2 separate regions of the Homo sapiens genome follow, and region 1 is linked to region 2. Evidence: fine-mapped expression QTL. A gene starts in region 2. The other region holds a variant in brackets. All regions are shown on one strand. Distances are between the middles of the regions.

Region 1 (2,899 bases), 87 kb after region 2:
CACAGCGAAGCGTGGCATGGGGATGAGCTGGAGGAGCATGGGAAGCGCAGAATAGTTCTGTGGACAACCATCGGTATTGCTGAGAGGGGGTCTGCTCGGGTTGCTGGACAGTTTCCATCAAACGCTGTAACTTTATGGTGGCACCAGTGTGCTCAGGGCTGGGATTCCCCCGGGGTGTGGATCTGCTTGTAGCAGGATGACGTGAGAGGTGAGAGGTGGGGAGAGGGGAATGGGTGCCGTGTGAGGCTCTGCCTGCTGAGCAGCACAGAGAGTCTGTGGGGCAAGGGCAGTGAGAACACTGGCAAGATTGAGGTGGAGGCGCTGAACGTGGAGTCCAAGCAGCTCAGGGAAAGCTGAAGACAGAGGAGCAGGAAAGATGGATGGGGGAAGGACACGTGCGGAGGCGGTCAGGGCATGGGGAAGGATGCATTTATGGGAAAGATCTGGGAAGATGGGAGATTGTGGTTGAGGAGGAGGAGATTTGATGTAGGACTTCAGAGGTGGAGCAGTTCTGAGTAATGAGCAGCTTCAGAACGTGGCTTCAGGGCAGCCTCGTTGAACCTTGTCACTGATGGGACCCTCTCTTCCATCCCATGTCCACATGGCTTCTCTCCTTGCAGCCTCTGACGCACCTCCCCCGCAGCTACCCTTTTCCTATTTTCTGGTCCAGCAAGAGGAACTCACAGCATCTTTTCTTACTTCCGGAGAAATTCATTCCACATGTGTCTGATTCATTCGCGTTTACAGAAACTTGAAATTTCCAGTGTCCAAAAACCCTTTCAACTATTTTTTTTCTTCCCTTTCTTAGAAACAGGAAGTTGTGTTTGGCTGCGGACAAACTCTCTCAGTGCCCCTGGGACTTACAAGATGTTTGGAATGAGGAACGGTGAGGTCTGGGGAAGGCTTCTTTCCTCTCTCCTTTCCTGGGGCGATTCGCATCTGCCAGGGCTGGGCTGGGCAGCTCTGGGGGCTGGAAGGCCAGCCGGAACCTTCCTGTCTCTTTCTACTGAGCCCCAGGCCTGAGGGAAAGTATGTTCTAAAGAGACAGGTGGCTTTCTTGCTCTCTGCTTGTCATTACGGTTCAGAATGCACTTGTGCACTGGTGTCATGTCTCTTCCCAGTACTTGAGCAGTGGCTGTGATGAGTCCCTTGATCTATTTCAGGGGGTGTGGGCTGGCCGGCACTCAGTTTTAAGCAAGTCCTGCTCTTTCCAAAGTGGAAGGTCAGAAAAACTCCCCACCTGAAGAAGAACGAGCCAGGGAAGTGTGGTACCAGCTGTTTAGGACCACACCTATTGGTTACGTCTGGCCAGGTCATTCTGCAGTGTTGACCTGGAAAGCACACAGGTGCTTAGGAGGGGCTGGCCAGGGGCAGGGAAAGTGTGGGAGTCACAGCCCACCCACTCCGTTCGCGGGACCCTCCAGTTTTTACTGTTGCTCGTTGTGTTCTCCTGTGTTGTTTAGAATGTTGTCATATGTACGGTCAATACAACCACAGTATTTGTCGCATTAGTGATCACCAACATTGAGCCAATGAAGACGCTGGCTTAGATGGGTGACTTCTTCTTTCCCACATTCCACA[T/G]GCAGCTCTCCCAATGCGAGCTCAGCGGAGGCCCCCAGAAAAACGTGGGGAGGAGAGTTTTCCCCATAAGACAGACTGTCCTTCAGCCCCGGCCACCAAAGAGGAGTAACCCGGGCCTGCTGTTCTCTGGGACTGAATGCGGCTGCATCCTTCCCTTCCTCTGCTTCCTGTCCCGGTACTTACTGACGGTGCACATGCGGGGCTTGGGGAAGCTGAGTGTCTAACCGCGGTGCAGCTACGGATGGGAAATTCTGGGCAGGGACGAGCCTGTCTTCACCTGAGGAATTCCCTCCCACATCACACAGGGCAGAGTGGGAGTGGAGGAGGGCAGAGGACACGTCTCAGGGCCAGTAACCTAGGCTTATAGAAGACGTCATCACCGTCCTCATGATGTTCACCCCGTCTCCTGTTTTTTGGGGCCATGTGTTCCGAAATGTAGCTTCAACTCATCATAGGGGCAAAAAGAAGTGATGAGTCTGTGGCAGCAGAAATCTGGGAATCCAAGGGTCGTGCTACATCTAGTCCTCTTTGATAAATTCTGCCTTCCTGTTCACATTTTTCGAGAAACCATTTTGAATTCCCAAACAGCAAAGGAAATGCTGCAGGTTCCTGGAGGGACCTGGTGATCTGGGGCAGAGCACACGGAGTCGAGATTGCTGCGGGGTTCACGAGCCTCCCCTCCTGGGACCAGGGGCACCTGGGCAGGGTAGTCTGCACCACGCAGGAAAGCCCAGTACACGCAGCTGCTCAACGCTGCAGACGCCATAGCGCAGGGCTGACAAGGCCTCCCTCTTTATCTGCCCTGGACCACAAGTGGAAAATATCAAGACAAAGCAAAAGCCAGTATCCCTTAAGAACTTTCCAATTGTTCTTGTCATTTGTAGTTTTGTTTTTTGGGGGGTGTGGGGAGGGAGGGGTGGTTTGAAACAACTCCGGAGCACACTCCAGAGGAAAACAGGAAGGGTGACATGTTTGGACACCAGAAAAGAGGAAGAGTCCTCACTAAGAGGGTGACTTGGTTAAAAAGTTCAAGCACAAAGGATGTAGAAGCAGGTGGATGTCATCAGAGAACAGATGCGGATCTAGTGAGATGGGTCCTACCACCCCTGGAATATGTTCCTGGGAGAGGGGTGGTCTGCTAGAGTGGACTGGGAATAGTAATATTGCATACTTTTGTAAATTCACAAAACCCTCTGATCTGTGATAGAGGAATAAAGGGCAGAGGATAAACCCCAGATAAAGATTCACTTATCTTAAAAATGAAAGGTTGGAAATTAACTTTATGCTACTGTACCACCTTCGAAGTATTTCTGGCAGG
Region 2 (2,899 bases):
TCTCCAAATAAAGCATTAAGAAAATAAGTGGAAGTTATGGAGAATTTCTTCCTGACTTCAAGAGATTATCTACTTACACGCTGAAAAAGAAATTAAGTTTTTGTCTTCATTTTTGTAAGTTCCAAAAAAAAGCACACAATTACGGGGTTTTATTGTAAATTCTGCTTGGATTCATAGAACTCACATGGACGCAATTTCCTTTTAATCAGTTCTAACGTACCTGTCATTTCTCGAGGTAACCCCTTTTTCTGATTAGGCCAGCAATAAAACGACTAGATGCAGAGTGATCCTCAGGAAGGAAAGGAAAAGAGGTGTGTGTGTGTGTGTATGTGTGTGTGTGTTTGTGTGTGTGTATATATATATATATATATTTTTTTAAAGAAGTGCCATCTTTTTCTTTCTGTACCAGAGAAAAAGCAGAAGGGGAAAGGAGGAAAAAAAACAGGTCTGAGCCTCCCGGGTTCGACCAGGTGAGAGGTGGCAACACTCCGGCCGCTCCGGGTTAGGGTGTTGGGCAAATGGGCGTGCAAAGGACGGGCAGCTCCCTGGAAGGTCGGGGTAACTGCTCCGGGACCGCGGGGCCCAAGGCCGGTCTCCTCCCAGAAGGATTAAATGCCACCGAGGGGATCCCGTGGGGTGTCTCCCGGCGCGGACTAGGCTGACAGACCCGGCTCTCCGCTCCCTTCGGCGCCAGGTGGGGGCCACGCGGTGTCAGCCACGGGCAGCGTGCAGGGGCCGTCCCCCGCGCGACCGGAGCCCGCCCTCCCCTCCCCGTTACCTGCGGGCGGCGGCGCCGGGCCCGGAGGCCTGCTGCTCCTCCTCCTTCTCCCGCCAGGCTGGGGCGGCGAGGCGGCGGCGGCGGCGGCCCGGGGGGAGGGGGCGGAGCGCGGCTCGCTGCCTCTCTCCTCCCCCGGGAGGCTCAGGGGCCCCTATCTCGGGCCGCCGCGCCTAGGCCCGTGAGCAGCCTGTGGTGGGGCATGGCGGCACAGCCACCGGCGTGCCCGCGAGTGGGAGTGCGAGGAGGCGGGGAGGGAAGCACCCCCAGCGCTCGGAGGGGCCAGAGGGGAGGAGCGAGGGGGCCCGGGAGCCGCGCGCTGGCGACCGTTGGGGACGGTTGGCCGAGGGCAGGCGGTTGTTTGGGGAGCGCGGCGACGGCTCGCGTGTTCCCAGCGGGGCGGGGTGGGGAAGGGGAAGGGGACTGAGGGGAGGGGAGGGGGAGGTTGGGAGGGAGCCGCCGCCGCGCGCGTGCGGCCGGCGCCGCCGCCGTTGCCGCTCCGCTCACTCCAGCCTGTTTGGGGGCACTTTGTTTGTGTCCCACAATGCTCTGCGCCGGCGGCCTGGCTGGGGAAGGGGAGGAGAAGGGGGCGGGGCGGAGCGCGCTCGGGGGCGGGGCTCGGGGCGGGGAAGGAAACGTGATGATTGCGCAAGCGCAGAAAATGGGCCCTCTTGGCCGTCGGGACTTGTACTGTTGGTGACTCCGTCTCCTTAGACGGTGGAGCCTGCGTGACCCAGAAAGGCCGTGAGTCTTGACACTGTATTTTTGCATATGTGCGCACATGTGCCGATTTACATTCACATGCCCCATAAGCCCTGTCCCATTTGTCCTTCCTCTAAGCCGTCCTCTTACCCAGTTCCCCTCTCACACCTGAGAAGCATTTCTCCGCAGGAGTCACATTTATAGCATTATTTTTTTCTTCGAACTAAAAACATAACTCCTATTTTCTCGGGTAGTTTTTGTAGGGAGGTCGAAATAGAAACACTTCAGCCCCTCTTCGGCGAGGGAGGTTAGTTGGTAAGGTGCCCATTGTTCACCCATGGAAACAGGCCTGCCAAGGGCCGCCCCGCAGACAGGTGAGCCCGCGCCCCCGTCCTGGGCGGACTGCGACATGCGGCGGGTGTCTGGATTGCGTGGCTCCTCGGGCCTCCTCGCAGTGCTTGCTCTCTTCCGTTCTAGCACTTGCCTCGGTGACCTGGCAGGACGTGCGGTTCTTGAGATGAGTGGAGAAACGGACTCCCAGGTCCCTCTCGTTCTTCCAACACAGGGACAGCTAGAGCTGCTCCAAAAATATACCCTACTTCTTCCACAACCGTGAATCTGTCATTTTTACTGCACCATCACTTACTTCCTGGCCTTCCCGGAGGAAGTGTGCGGGCCTCCCCGAAGTAACCGGTACCGCCCGGGGGGTTTTGAAGTTCTTGGTCAACTGCAAAATCAATCAACCTAGTTAACTCCTAGGGCCCTAAGTCTTGGCTTCCCCTGGCCAGGCGGGCGAGCGCTCTCCACACCGCCCCCGGAGGTCATAGGGGTTCCCGGGACTGCAGGCGGCAGCGCCCCAGGTGCCTGGGGGCGGGCGGGGTGCGGGCAGGTGCTCCTTGGGCGCTTTCTGTTTTCCCACGCCTCCAGTTTGCAAACCGAAAGACTTCTTTCCAGAGGGTTTTGTGCAAGGTGGGTGGACGTCCCGCTGAAGTAGAGTGGATTTTCCTTTTGAAACACTTGGCAACATCTCACATTAATTCACTCTGAGAGACAAGCAGCCAAGCACCTGAACACCCTGACACTTGCAATCTTCTTTAGGAATAAAGGCAATAAAAACAACTTCTGTTTTTATAGTCCTTCGCAGTTTCCAACAAGTTTTCAAGCATGTATAATGTTATCTAATCCTTACGGCAACTGTAATTCACAGGTTTTATCACAGGTTTCTATTATTATTCCCACTATCATTCTTATTATTCCCATTTCAGAGATGAGAAAAATCAGAAAGATGCGAACTAGGCCCAGAAACTTTTGCACTAAGTTTTGAAGAGGGGAAGGGAAAGAAGGCGGAATGCTTACCTGGGAGAGGACTGGCGGCCACAGAGCAGGGCTCAGGAAAGGGCATGAGCTGGGGCCCTGGTGAGG

The links.
Region 1: its variant is fine-mapped to the expression of ZBTB44-DT in whole blood (TOPMed, PIP above 0.99). The same link has a PIP of 0.9 or more in adrenal gland, blood mononuclear cells, caudate, cerebral cortex, hippocampus and hypothalamus.

What each region holds. Positions count from the first base shown.
Region 1 is chr11:130,400,202-130,403,100 of GRCh38, forward strand. It overlaps ZBTB44-DT (ZBTB44 divergent transcript), which reads left to right. Exons shown (of 7, transcript NR_148980.1): 6 at 809-886. Among named protein-coding and RNA genes, the nearest start is that of ADAMTS8, 27 kb to the right of the region's middle. The variant T/G (reference allele first, on the strand shown) is at 1,582.
Region 2 is chr11:130,313,597-130,316,495 of GRCh38, forward strand. It overlaps ZBTB44-DT (ZBTB44 divergent transcript), which reads left to right and starts at 1,397. Exons shown (of 7, transcript NR_148980.1): 1 at 1,397-1,519. It overlaps ZBTB44 (zinc finger and BTB domain containing 44), which reads right to left and starts at 1,321. Exons shown (of 8, transcript NM_001301098.2): 1 at 779-1,321. RefSeq lists enhancers at 475-524, 1,685-1,784, 1,955-2,054 and silencers at 615-1,444, 2,355-2,414.